Homo sapiens: one gene and its partners. The protein of the gene in region 1 interacts with the protein of each later gene in a pairwise test. Each region holds a gene or a part of one and is shown in the gene's direction. Other genes may lie near its edges.

Region 1 (3,748 bases):
GCTGGAGCACAGGGTTCAGCCTTGTCCATGGCGAGGTGTCCACATGCGTCTGCCCAAGGCTGCCACACTTTGTCCCAAAAACAAACGCAGGATGTGCTGCTCAGCCTTTTAGTGTCTGATGTAGCTACTTTTTTTTTTTTTTTAAAGAGACAGGGTCTTGCCCTATCACCTAGGCTGGAGTGCAGTGGCCTGATCGTGGCACACTGCAGCCTGGAAATCCCAGGCTCAAGTGATCCTCCTGCTTCAGCCTCTCGAATTGCTGGGACTAAAGGCATGCACCACCAGGCCTGGCTTTTTTTTTTTTTTTTTTTTTTTTAATTTTTGTAGAGATAAGGTCTTGCCATGTTGCCCAGGCTGGTTTTGAACTCCTGGGCTCAAGTGCCACCTCAGCCTCCTACAGTGCAGGGGCTCCAGGTGTGCGCCATTGTGCCTGGCTGATAGGTACTTCCGTAGCTTGTTGTGGGTTAGGTACTCTTGCCTTCCATCATTGATGAGAAATTTGCTGAAAAGCTTAGTAACCTCTTAAGGCCAGTAAGACAGATGGTGTGGTTTCCTCCTTGATTTAGAAGCATTTTATTCCATCTGTTTGTTAGACTCTGACATGAGGAGTGCACATACATGGTGACACTTTACCCTACAGCAGGTGGTACTGTGAAGTCTTGCAGGGGTGAGAGGCCTGGAGATGCTTTGCTTTGAAGAGATTGGCGGATGTGTCATAGCCACCTTCAAACACAACTGTGGCCCATGGTGCAGTGGAGAGGCTGGGGGGACGTTAGGAGGAATGGGTCAAAGGCACCATAAAGAACTTTCCAGGCCGGGTGCAGTGGCTCCCACCTGTGATCCCAGCATCAGGCCAGGTGCAGTGGCTCCCACCTGTGATCCCAGCATTGTGGGGGCCAGGGCAGAGGATCACGTGAGCCTGAGAGGTCGAGACCAGCCTAGGCAACATAGTAAGACCCCCTCTCTACTAAAAAACATTAGCCAGGTGTGGTGGCATGCGCCTGTTGTCCCAGCTACTTGGGAGGCTGAGGCAGGAGCATAGCTTGAGCCCGGGAGGTCGAAGCTGTACTTAACTATGATCACACCACTGCGCTCCAGCCTTGGCAACAGAGCAAGACCCTGTCTCAAAAATAAAAAGAATTTTCCAACTTTTGAGTCATCCCACAGCAGGATGAGTGGGACAGGCTGGTGCTGGAATTGTTCCTGGTGACGGCATCAGTCAGGAGCCTGCAGAATCTGATAAAACGAGAGGGTGTTCATGCGCAGGGCACCAGTAATAGGAGGGGACCAGAGTGGGGCTGACCAAGCCAGGAGGGGACAGCGGGGGCCACGGGGTCACTTGTGCTGGGCAGGAGCATCGGGATGTGGTGCTCGGTGGGGGAGGGGCCAGGAGAGGGTGCGAGTCCCGCGTTCGCGTCACAGTGAGGTTTGCAGTGACGCATACTGGACAGAGCGCAGCCCCTCGTGACCTGGCATCTGGGCGCCATTGCTGCTAGGAGAGACCGCCCATGAGCTGCCAAAGCCAAGTATGGAGCTGGGCGCATGGGATGTGCCTCTGTGAAAATGCAGGCAAGAGGAGACTGTGCCCTTGCACACACGCACACTCACACCGTCAGCCAATGGACAAACACCAAAACAACCAACACAAATGCTTCCGGGTAGGAGATGGGGTTAGGGCTCAGGCAGTCCAGAGCAGGGGTGGAAGCGGCCACCTTCCCAGGACCTCTTGAAGGTATGAGTCCGTCTGTATGTACCTTTGAATCATGTAGATGTATTGGCAGCTTCAGAAGTTAAATTAAACATCATTGGGGCCGGGCAGAGTGGCTCACGCCTGTAATCTCAGCACTCTGGGAGGCTGAGGCGGGTGGATCACTTGAGATCAGTAGTTTGAGACTAGCCTGGCCACCATGGTGAAACCCCATCTCGACCAAAAATACAAAAACTAGCTGGGCTTGGTGGCGCATGTCTGTAAAGCCAGCTGCTTGTGAGGCTGAGGTATGAGAATCACTTGAACCCAGGAGGCAGAGGTAGCAGTGAGCCAAGATCACGCAACTGCACTCCAGCCTGGGGCGGCAAAGCGAGACTCCATCTCCAAAAAAAAAAAAGGAACATCATTGGCTGTCACAGAAACTGAAAGGACCTCACTTTATGGCTGTCCACACCGTCCACACCTCCTGGAGTCCCGAGCGCGGCTGGCGTGTCGTGTGCATTTCTCAGGCCCTCGCCAGGTGGTGACCAGCGTGTCCCAGGAGTGGACGACAGGGTGGTGTGGCCGGGGCCTGTGGGACTCATCTTCCCTGGGCAGTGCTGGGGCCGCCTTGGCTGCGTCCTCGTGTGGATCACTGTGTTTTTATGTGACACGGCTTTGAGCGTCGTTCACATGTTCCTCGTGGCTCATTGTGTCCACATCTTGCTCCTTCTGAGGAAGCAGAGGGTGTGCCGTGGCCTCTTGTTTCACACACAGATGCGCCATGCTGCCCGGCACCTTCTCACGGGCACCCCGCAGAATGCCAGAGGATTCTTAGAGAAAGAAAAGAGCTGGGCACGGTGGCTCACGCCTGTAATCTCAGCACTTTGGGAGGCCGGGGCAGGCGGATCACGAGGTCAGGAGATCGAGACCATCGTGGCTAACACGGTGAAACCCCGTCTCTACTAAAAATAGAAAAAAATTAGCTGGGCGTGGTGGCGGGCGCCTGTTGTCCCAGCTACTCAGGAGGCCGAGGCAGGAGAATGGCGTGAACCCCGGAGGCAGAGCTTGCAGTGAGCCGAGATTGTGCCACTGCACTCCAGCCTGGGTGACAGAGCGAGACTCCATCTCGAAAAGAAAAGAAAGAACCCTGGAGTACTTGCTGGTTGTGGAGGAAGGCCCCACATCTGCCCGCCCCGTTGCTGTCCTGTTGAGAGCACGGCCTGGGCTCCCCCGAGCCCTGCAGATTTCATGCAACACATCTGAAAACGGCAAAGGCCTTTTCCACAGATGTCGTGCCCCCTTTCCCTGCAGTTATCTCAGCAGCCCCCTTTCTTTGGGGATAGGGCGGCTGCTGCCAGTTCCCACTAGATCGCCTGAGCACCCACTGGGGTGTGAGAGCCAGGCCTGGTCCCTGTGTGCTGGGGCTGGGTGTTCTGAGCTGGCACTCTCACAGTTGTTGCATACCTGCTGGGTGCCAGGGCAAAGCTGGCCCGTTTCCTACAAACTGGCTCCTTTATTTTTTTTTTTTGTTTATGTTTTTTTGAGATGGAGTCTCACTCTATCGCCCAGGCTGGAGTGCAGTGATGCGATCTCGGCTCACTGCAACCTCCTCCTCCTGGGTTCACACCATTCTCCTGCCTCAGCCTCCCGAGTAGCTGGGACTACAGGCTCCCGCCACCATGCCGGGCTAAATTTTTTGTATTTTTAGTAGAGACGGGGTTTCACCATGTTAGCCAGGATGATCTCGATCTCCTGACCTTGTGATCCACCCGCCTCGGCCTCCCAAAGTGCTGGGATTACAGGCGTGAGCCACCGCACCCGGCCACAAACTGGCTCCTTTATTATGTAAAGAATAAAGTGGGCTATAAAACATGAGAATATGCAGGCTGACCCCCAAAAGCCTGACACCCTTGAAAACCCACTCCCCCATGTCTCAGATGGCTTTCATGGGGGCAGGAGAAAGGATAGTGACCTTAAGTCTTCTCCCGTGACGGTGACAGCTCGTTTGCCAGCTGTTGCTGGAACCGGCCCTGGATTTAGAGGAAGGCGTGGAAGTTC
Region 2 (3,748 bases), on another chromosome or scaffold:
TTAAGGCAAAAAGTTCACTTAGGGCCTTAACTGATCGTGGTTTTTGTTTCCAATGATCTGTTCAATTGGATAATTGCCAGATTTTCACGTAGTGTCTGTATGACTTACACACACACACACACACACACACACACAAACACATTATCATATGGTTAGTATTTTAAAAAAGAAATTCCAGTAATTTTCCTGAACATTTTTCTTCTTATCATTTCATATAAGTAGACACAGTTAATCACTGGGACTCCCTTTACAGAATGAATCTGAGGGTATCTCTGTAAAGAGGCAACATTCTAAACTTTAGTACTGTACATACAGCTAAGCCCTCTGGTCTGAGCAGGCTCTGAGGCTTTCGGAGGACTGGGTAGAGAAAACTGGCAAAGTTGTCCTGAAGCACTGGAGGGGTATACCCACTTTAGGAGTGTGGAGGGGTGGGTAGCCCCATCCTGGATCTAGCTGCTGGAGGTACCAGATAAGGTGAAAACCTTTGACAAAGAGTTGCTGCCTTTCCCAACAAGTGGTACTAAAAATGGGGAGATTCAAATCCACTCATAATTTTAGCTGCTTTTGCTGTATTACTTAGACTGTATCGCTCCTTCCCATAATTCACCCTTCAGCCACCCACCACCTTGGATCCCATTTTGTTTGTTCTATGTTAAATTTCAATGTAATGTAGTTTAATATTGTCAAAGTCGAAGGCTGATTTCTCTCTCTAATGCTGCAAGAGAAGATGACATGCTGTAGGTTGTGATGAGGCAATGTGATCCAAAGCAGAATCCTTGCTTTTGTTGGAGAGCACTGGACATATAAAGACACTGGGCGTATTTGTCAAAAGAACAGAAGGTGGAAGGAAAGGAAGATGATCTGGCAGTCAGGTAACACCAATCCCAAGTCTCCACTGACCGCTCCCGTCTAAAGAGAGCACAGATTATAGTTTGCCCCCATGAGATTGCCATTTTGGGTTGGAAGATGGTCGCAATTTCATTTTTCACTTAAGCAAACGTCCGTTGCCGTACTGCTAGGTATGAGATGAGTAATCGTCAGGGACGCGTTTAAATTACAAAATAATGGTAAATGGGAGAGAAAGAATCTTTTCTCGGGGTTGAGGCCAGATCCTCCAGGGCTGGGAGACCCAGGAGTGCGGGCCACTGTGCACCCTCGAGCAAAGCAGTGTGTGACGAGATGGGATCTTCCCTCAAATGCTGAGAAGAGCCCTCGCCAATCCCTCGGAAGGTTCCCAGAATAAAAAGCCCGGTCCCTGCTGTGCAAAGACTGAGCGGTACTCCGGTGTACTTTTTCCCTGTCCCAGGCGTGCAGAGTCCACGCCGCGCGGCCAGGTGCCCCAATAGTGTACCTGAAAGTAGGGATGGGGCCAGTTACAGCTGCACTTTCCCTGCAGAAGACAGTGAGCCTTCCCGGGATCTTTCTGGGAGCTCTGAGTGTGAAAACGGTCCTCCGGCCAGCGCAGGTTGAGAGAACGGGAAGGAGGGGGAAGCTGTGGGCGCCCAGGGCGTGACAGGCGCAGGTGAGAAAGTGAGTTTCGCGGGAGCATCTGCCGGGACCGCAGACAGGTGGAGAAACGCAGTCCCACCGCGGCCCACCGCGGCTCCCGGGCGGCCTGGGCTGTACCTGTGCGCGGCGTCCTTTCTGCGCTGAGCCAGGGCACCCCGGAGCCTGCGGCCTCCTTCCCCGCCCCTGCGGCCCCGGGTCCCAGCCCCGCCCCGCCCCGCCCCGGGCTGGGGCTCCGCTGGGGAACCGGCCGAGCGGCGCGCGCGGAGGTGTCCGGCGGCCAGGAGGATGGCCAAGGTCCCGGAGCTGGAAGACACCTTCCTGCAGGCGCAGCCTGCGCCCCAACTGTCCCCGGGGATCCAGGAAGACTGCTGTGTGCAGCTCCTGGGCAAGGGCTTGCTAGTCTATCCGGAAGAAACAGTGTACCTGGCGGCCGAAGGGCAGCCCGGGGGCGAGCAGGGCGGCGGGGAGAAAGGCGAAGACCCGGAGCTGCCGGGGGCAGTGAAATCAGGTGAGTGCTCTGCCGCATCCGGAGCTGGGAAGGGGACGGGGACGTATTCTAAGAAGGGCACCCAATAATAATAATGCATCCCGAACAAACATAAGGCAGATATAGAATGTTCTGTCCAAATCTTTGTATTTCCTCAGTAAAATGTCAAGTAGAGACCTGACATTTTGCATAGCCCCCCTTTCCTCCCCTCCGCCCCCACCCCAGTAGGCTACTCCTTTGAAGTTAAGGTACACTTAAAGGCGACTTAGTTGATTTTATATTCTATTTTTCTTTATCATCCCTTCAACTGGCAATCAGAAATGCACTTAAACAATGGTAACTTTTCCTCTGAAGAAGAGGACGCCGACAACCACGACAGCAAAACCAAAGCAGCGGATCAATACCTGTCTCAGAAGAAAACCATCACGCAGATTGTGAAGGATAAAAAGAAGCAGACACAGCTCACGCTGCAGTGGTGAGACTCGCCCGCAGGGTACACTGAAGCACCTGTTGACGTTTTAACAGCCAGCGTCTTCAGGATCTTTGATTTTCACAATTTACTTCTTCCTCAAACTTTTTGGGAAAGTTTAAAAAACCAATTAGAATTTAACCCAGAATTTTTTTCACTGAATTTTTAGTATAGAGACTTATACAAGTACTGGTGAAGGATTTGCAATACAAATGAAAACCACATTACGTTGTTCCTTATTGACTAAAACCATATTTTCTTCAAATGTAAGCATTAATGAACGTTTTTATGACTTACTGGCTTAATATGCAATCAGTTCAGTCCTTACATATTTGTTGTTTGATAGTTTTTGAGATTATAAAATATGATTCTTAAAAACAACTTAAAATGAGGAAGGATCTTAACACTGCCTTTATTCAAAAGAGGGCAAATTAAAAATAGTGTATACTCCATAAGATGAACTGTGTTTGAGGTAGAAGACATAGAAAAAATCGGTTAAGATATCTATACTAACTTAAATAGAAGTTCAACTATTTTTATACCATCTATCATATATGATTTATAATAATAAAATATTACAAATTGGATTTTGTGGAAAATCTTTTAAAACCAAGAATTTATCAGTAGGATTTCCACATAGAGTGAACATTTTGTAATATCTATCTAAAAGAAAGACGGCTCTAAAGTAAAAGCATTATATTAAACTTTCCTACGTAGTGGGAAGAAATAGGAGCATAAATTTCCTCACAAATTCCAAGTAAAAAACAAACTAATAAAAAGGACTATATATTTACTGATTAGTTACATAACCTAATTTTGTGTAAAGTATGATCTAAGGAGCCTTAGAAAAATACAAGATAAAGAACTAGTAAATTTTATTTTTATTATTTATTTAAATATTAAATTACAATTTACATATAGTAGTTTTTTGTGATTATATGCTTGAACCCTTTCAAAATATTTGAAATATAAGCCAAATATTCATCTAAAGTTGGAGTTTAACTATTGAAGTTGATGTCGTGGTTACTAGTTAAGAATATACTAGAGCAGTTAAGTAATTGAGTTAAATATCTGGGATATTTAGGATACAACTATTTGCAGCAGGATAACTGGGGCAAAAGTGTTTTGATTTCAGATATATTATTGAGCTGTTTCGAATGATTACTCCATTTTTTCCATTTAAATTGAGTGTGTGGAAATATATGTTTCTTTTATGAATAAATGTATACATAAATATATATAAGTTAAGATCAAAGAAAAAACTTGTACCCCAAATGAACATC
Region 3 (3,748 bases), on another chromosome or scaffold:
GTTAGAGGATATATAAGGAGAGATGAGGGCAAAAGAGCATCCTCGAGCAACTAAAACATCCTGTTACACGTAACAGGTTCATATAGATGTTAATATATATTTAGTCCAATTACACTACATTTCCCTTACATAGCACAATAAGTAATTTGTGTTTAAAAAAATGATCTGTCGGCCGGAGGCGGTGGCTCACGCCTGTAATCCCAGTACTCTGGGAGGCCGAGGTGGGTGGATCACCTGAGGTCAGGAGTTGGAGACCAGACTGCCCAGCATGGCGAAACCTCGTCTCTACCAAAAAATGCAAAAATTAGCTGGGCGTGCTGGCAGGCGCCTGTAATCCCAGTTACTTGGGAGGCTGAGGCACAAGAATTGTTTAAACCCGGGAGGTGGAGGTTCCAGTGAGTCGAGATCGCGCCACTGCACACTACAGCCTGGGCGACAGAGCAAGACTCTGTCTCAAAAAAAAAAAAAAAAAAAGAAAAGAAAAGAAAAAAGATCTGTCAACCATAAAATGATTTTTTTTTTTTTTTTGAGACGGAGTCTTGCTCTGTCGCTCAGGCTGGAGTGCAATGGTGCGATCTCGGCTCACTGCAACCTTCTCCTCCCGGGTTCAAGCGATTCTCCCGCCTCAGCCTCCCGAGTAGCTGGGATTACAGGCACCGCCATAGTGCCCAGCTAATTGTAGGAACGGGGTTTCACCATGTTGGCTAGGCTGGTCTTGAACTCCCGACCTCAGGCGATCTGCCCGCCTCGGCCCCCCAAAGTGCTGGGATTACAGGCGTGAGCCACCGCGCCAGGCCCGTAAAATGAAATTTTAACCATAGATTCTAAATTGCGTATTCACAGAGTAACTGAGACGATTGCAACTTATTTAAAACTATGTGTAAATCATCTTGAAACAAGTTAATGAGAAAGATCACATGATTAAAACAATAAAAAATGTTGCTTGAGGAATAATGCACAGACGGAATTTAGAAAAAAGGAAAGCCAGAACAACTGCAGACGGTTCTTTTCGCTTTTGTATAGGACTGAGCTCCTCTTCCGGACAAAAACCAGGAATAAGGGAGGTCTTCTTAGTAAAAGCAAAAGTAAATTGTCTTAAAAAAAAAAAAAAGGTTGCAAGTGATTTGGTCTTTCCAGAAAAGTCAATACCATGTCTAACAGTGGTCTCTACTACAATAACCTGAAGGTGCTAATGACCCTCACAGTAAAATAAGCTAGCAAATGGCCACACCGTAGAGCGCCTACATTTACTGCCAATTAAGTCCAACTGCCGCTGTCTTAATATTTTCGCTTTTTAATGAATCCTCTCTCTAGGTATTCCGATCCATCCACCGGTAACACGCTGATACTTCGAAATACTGCAGGCAGGAGTGGACGGGGGAGAAGCCCCCCCCCTCCCCGGGCTTCTTTCGTGTTCGGGCCTCTGCTGCCGCGATCCACGGAAGCAAGAATGAGTTCCATCGCTTGGGGCTCACCAGCTAGAGGGCTGGCGGAGGCTGCGAGGGGCAGAAGTAGCAGCAGGCTACTGGGTGGGCAAGCGGTGTGTACCGCAGCTGTGGAGGACATCGACGCGGAACGCCCGGATTGAGCTCAGAACACACCGGCCCCGCCCGGGACTCATTCTACAAGCTTCTTCGGAAGAGGCGCCCGCCCGGGAGGAAGGGTCTAACCCCGGGCTCCACCGGGAGGAGATAAACTACTCACTGTCAATGTCCTCGATGAGGCTGGCGGTGCCAGGCATATAGTTCATTTTGAACTGAAATAATGCTGCAATGCACAGCGGCGGGAGGCCAGCGCGTCCAAAACCTCTTCCCTCCTACCGCAGTCGCCGCCTCGGTGGGACCAAGCCCGGAATCCCGACCGAGACCAGCACTTCTGCCCCGGCTTTCAGCCGCCGGGGGCTGCCGGAAGCTCCTCCATATTACCCTTACCCACTTCCTGTAACACGTGTGGGCCCCCAGGAAGAGGCGGGGCAGCCGTACCGTTGGGGGACACCCTTTCCCTGTTCCTGTTAAGTAGGTAAGAGGAAACTCCATTGGATAAATGGCGAGGAAACGTATACTCCCTCTTAAGGAACACGGTGTCTTCCTTCGTCTCCGGGTTCCCGAGACCCCAGAGTCACTGACCTCCGTCCCTCAGCTTTCGGGGTTCGGCAGCAGAAGGGGCGGGCCCGGGCCTGGGATTGGCTGGCGTCGTCCGACCCCCTTCGCTGCTCTCCATTCGCAATCGCCCGCGGGCGCCTGCGCGATGGGTCGGCCGTGGGGAGCGGGGCGGGAAGCGCTTCAGGGCAGCGGATCCCATGTCGGCCCTGAGGCGCTCGGGCTACGGCCCCAGTGACGGTCCGTCCTACGGCCGCTACTACGGGCCTGGGGGTGGAGATGTGCCGGTACACCCACCTCCACCCTTATATCCTCTTCGCCCTGAACCTCCCCAGCCTCCCATTTCCTGGCGGGTGCGCGGGGGCGGCCCGGCGGAGACCACCTGGCTGGGAGAAGGCGGAGGAGGCGATGGCTACTATCCCTCGGGAGGCGCCTGGCCAGAGCCTGGTCGAGCCGGAGGAAGCCACCAGGTAAGCTTTGCACCCTCTGTCCTTGCGGGGAGGTGAGGGCCCTTGGGGCTGGGGTTCGTAAAGGATCGGGTTTCATACTTGTTTTCCTTATGTGGAGGAGGGTGTGTTGCGGGGGGTGTTGGAGAGACCGAGACTAAGATCAGAGGTTGGGGGGACATGCTTGTGTTCCCTTTGCCCCTCCTTTTCTGCTTCGACCCCAAAAAATATGTTTATTACCATTTAAAAAAGAAAGATCCTGCGCGGACTTACTAAGCTTAGCAGCAGGCTGCAGATCTCTCTCCTGGGAGCGGTGCTGGGTAGGGGTGGCACGGATCTACTGCTCCAGCTCTAGCAATTTATCCTGCGTGGCTGGCAGGCCGGCTCTCCCGGGGAAGGGAAGTGGCTGCAGCCCCCGATGCCGCTCAGGGACCCTCCCGAGGGGAAGGAACCTTTGCGAGGAGGAGGGATCTGGGCATTTAGCTGTTTGCCCCTAATGCCTTGCCTGAGATCGAATCATGAATAATCAGTGTTGTAAAGTACCTTTACGCGGATTGACTGATTTAATTTTCACGGCGACTGCAAGGTAAAATGGCATTACAGCGGCCCTTTTTTTTGTTTTCGAATAAGGAACCGGGGCTCTGCGAGGTTAACTCACTTGCCTAATACACTTGGACCTGCAACATTTTATTCTCCGTTTTCCTGCCGGACATATACTTCTGCTTTGTTAATACAGTCTTCTGGGTAGTGGGTTGTCGTTCTGCGGTGGCAGCATACCTCTCTGTTCGTTCAAGAATTATCCTCATTTGTTGAAAATGTAATAGTGAAATTCTCGTACATTGCTGGTGGGGATGTAAAATGGTGGAAAATAGTTTGGTAGTTCCTCAAAACATTAAGCATTAGAATTAGTCTATGACCCAGCAAGCCCACTCCTGGCTATATACCCAAGAAAACTGATAACGTATGTTCACATAAAGCTTGTCCGCCCATGTTCATAGCATCATTATTCATAATCGCCAAAAAGTAGAAATGTCGTTTTTTTTGTTTTTTTTTTTTTTGAGTTGGAGTCTCGCTCTGTTGCCCAGGCTGGAGTGCAGTGGTGCCATCTCGGCTCACTGCAACCTCCGCCTCCCGGTTTAAGCGATTCTCCTGCCTCAGCCTCTCGAGTAGCTAGGATTACAGGCGCCGGCCATCACACCCGGC

The links.
Region 2: the proteins of SS18L1 (region 1) and RFX6 interact in binary tests that used the Homo sapiens proteins (3 or more experiments, as listed by UniProt).
Region 3: the proteins of SS18L1 (region 1) and BAG4 interact in binary tests that used the Homo sapiens proteins (3 or more experiments, as listed by UniProt).

The regions. Positions count from the first base shown.
Region 1 is NC_000020.11:62,167,688-62,171,435, forward strand, and holds part of SS18L1 (calcium-responsive transactivator), read left to right. Parts: intron 1-3,748. UniProt on the Homo sapiens protein: Transcriptional activator which is required for calcium-dependent dendritic growth and branching in cortical neurons. Recruits CREB-binding protein (CREBBP) to nuclear bodies.
Region 2 is NC_000006.12:116,875,482-116,879,229, forward strand, and holds the start of RFX6 (DNA-binding protein RFX6), read left to right. Parts: upstream 1-1,760; 5' UTR 1,761-1,794; coding exon 1,795-2,017; intron 2,018-2,314; coding exon 2,315-2,471; intron 2,472-2,481; exon of another isoform or gene 2,482-2,729; coding exon of another isoform or gene 2,730-2,731; intron 2,732-3,748. UniProt on the Homo sapiens protein: Transcription factor required to direct islet cell differentiation during endocrine pancreas development. Specifically required for the differentiation of 4 of the 5 islet cell types and for the production of insulin.
Region 3 is NC_000008.11:38,174,571-38,178,318, forward strand, and holds the start of BAG4 (BAG family molecular chaperone regulator 4), read left to right. Parts: upstream 1-2,284; 5' UTR 2,285-2,299; coding exon 2,300-2,569; intron 2,570-3,748. Other genes in the region: U6 snRNA-associated Sm-like protein LSm1, read right to left, coding at 1,705-1,750. UniProt on the Homo sapiens protein: Inhibits the chaperone activity of HSP70/HSC70 by promoting substrate release. Prevents constitutive TNFRSF1A signaling. Negative regulator of PRKN translocation to damaged mitochondria.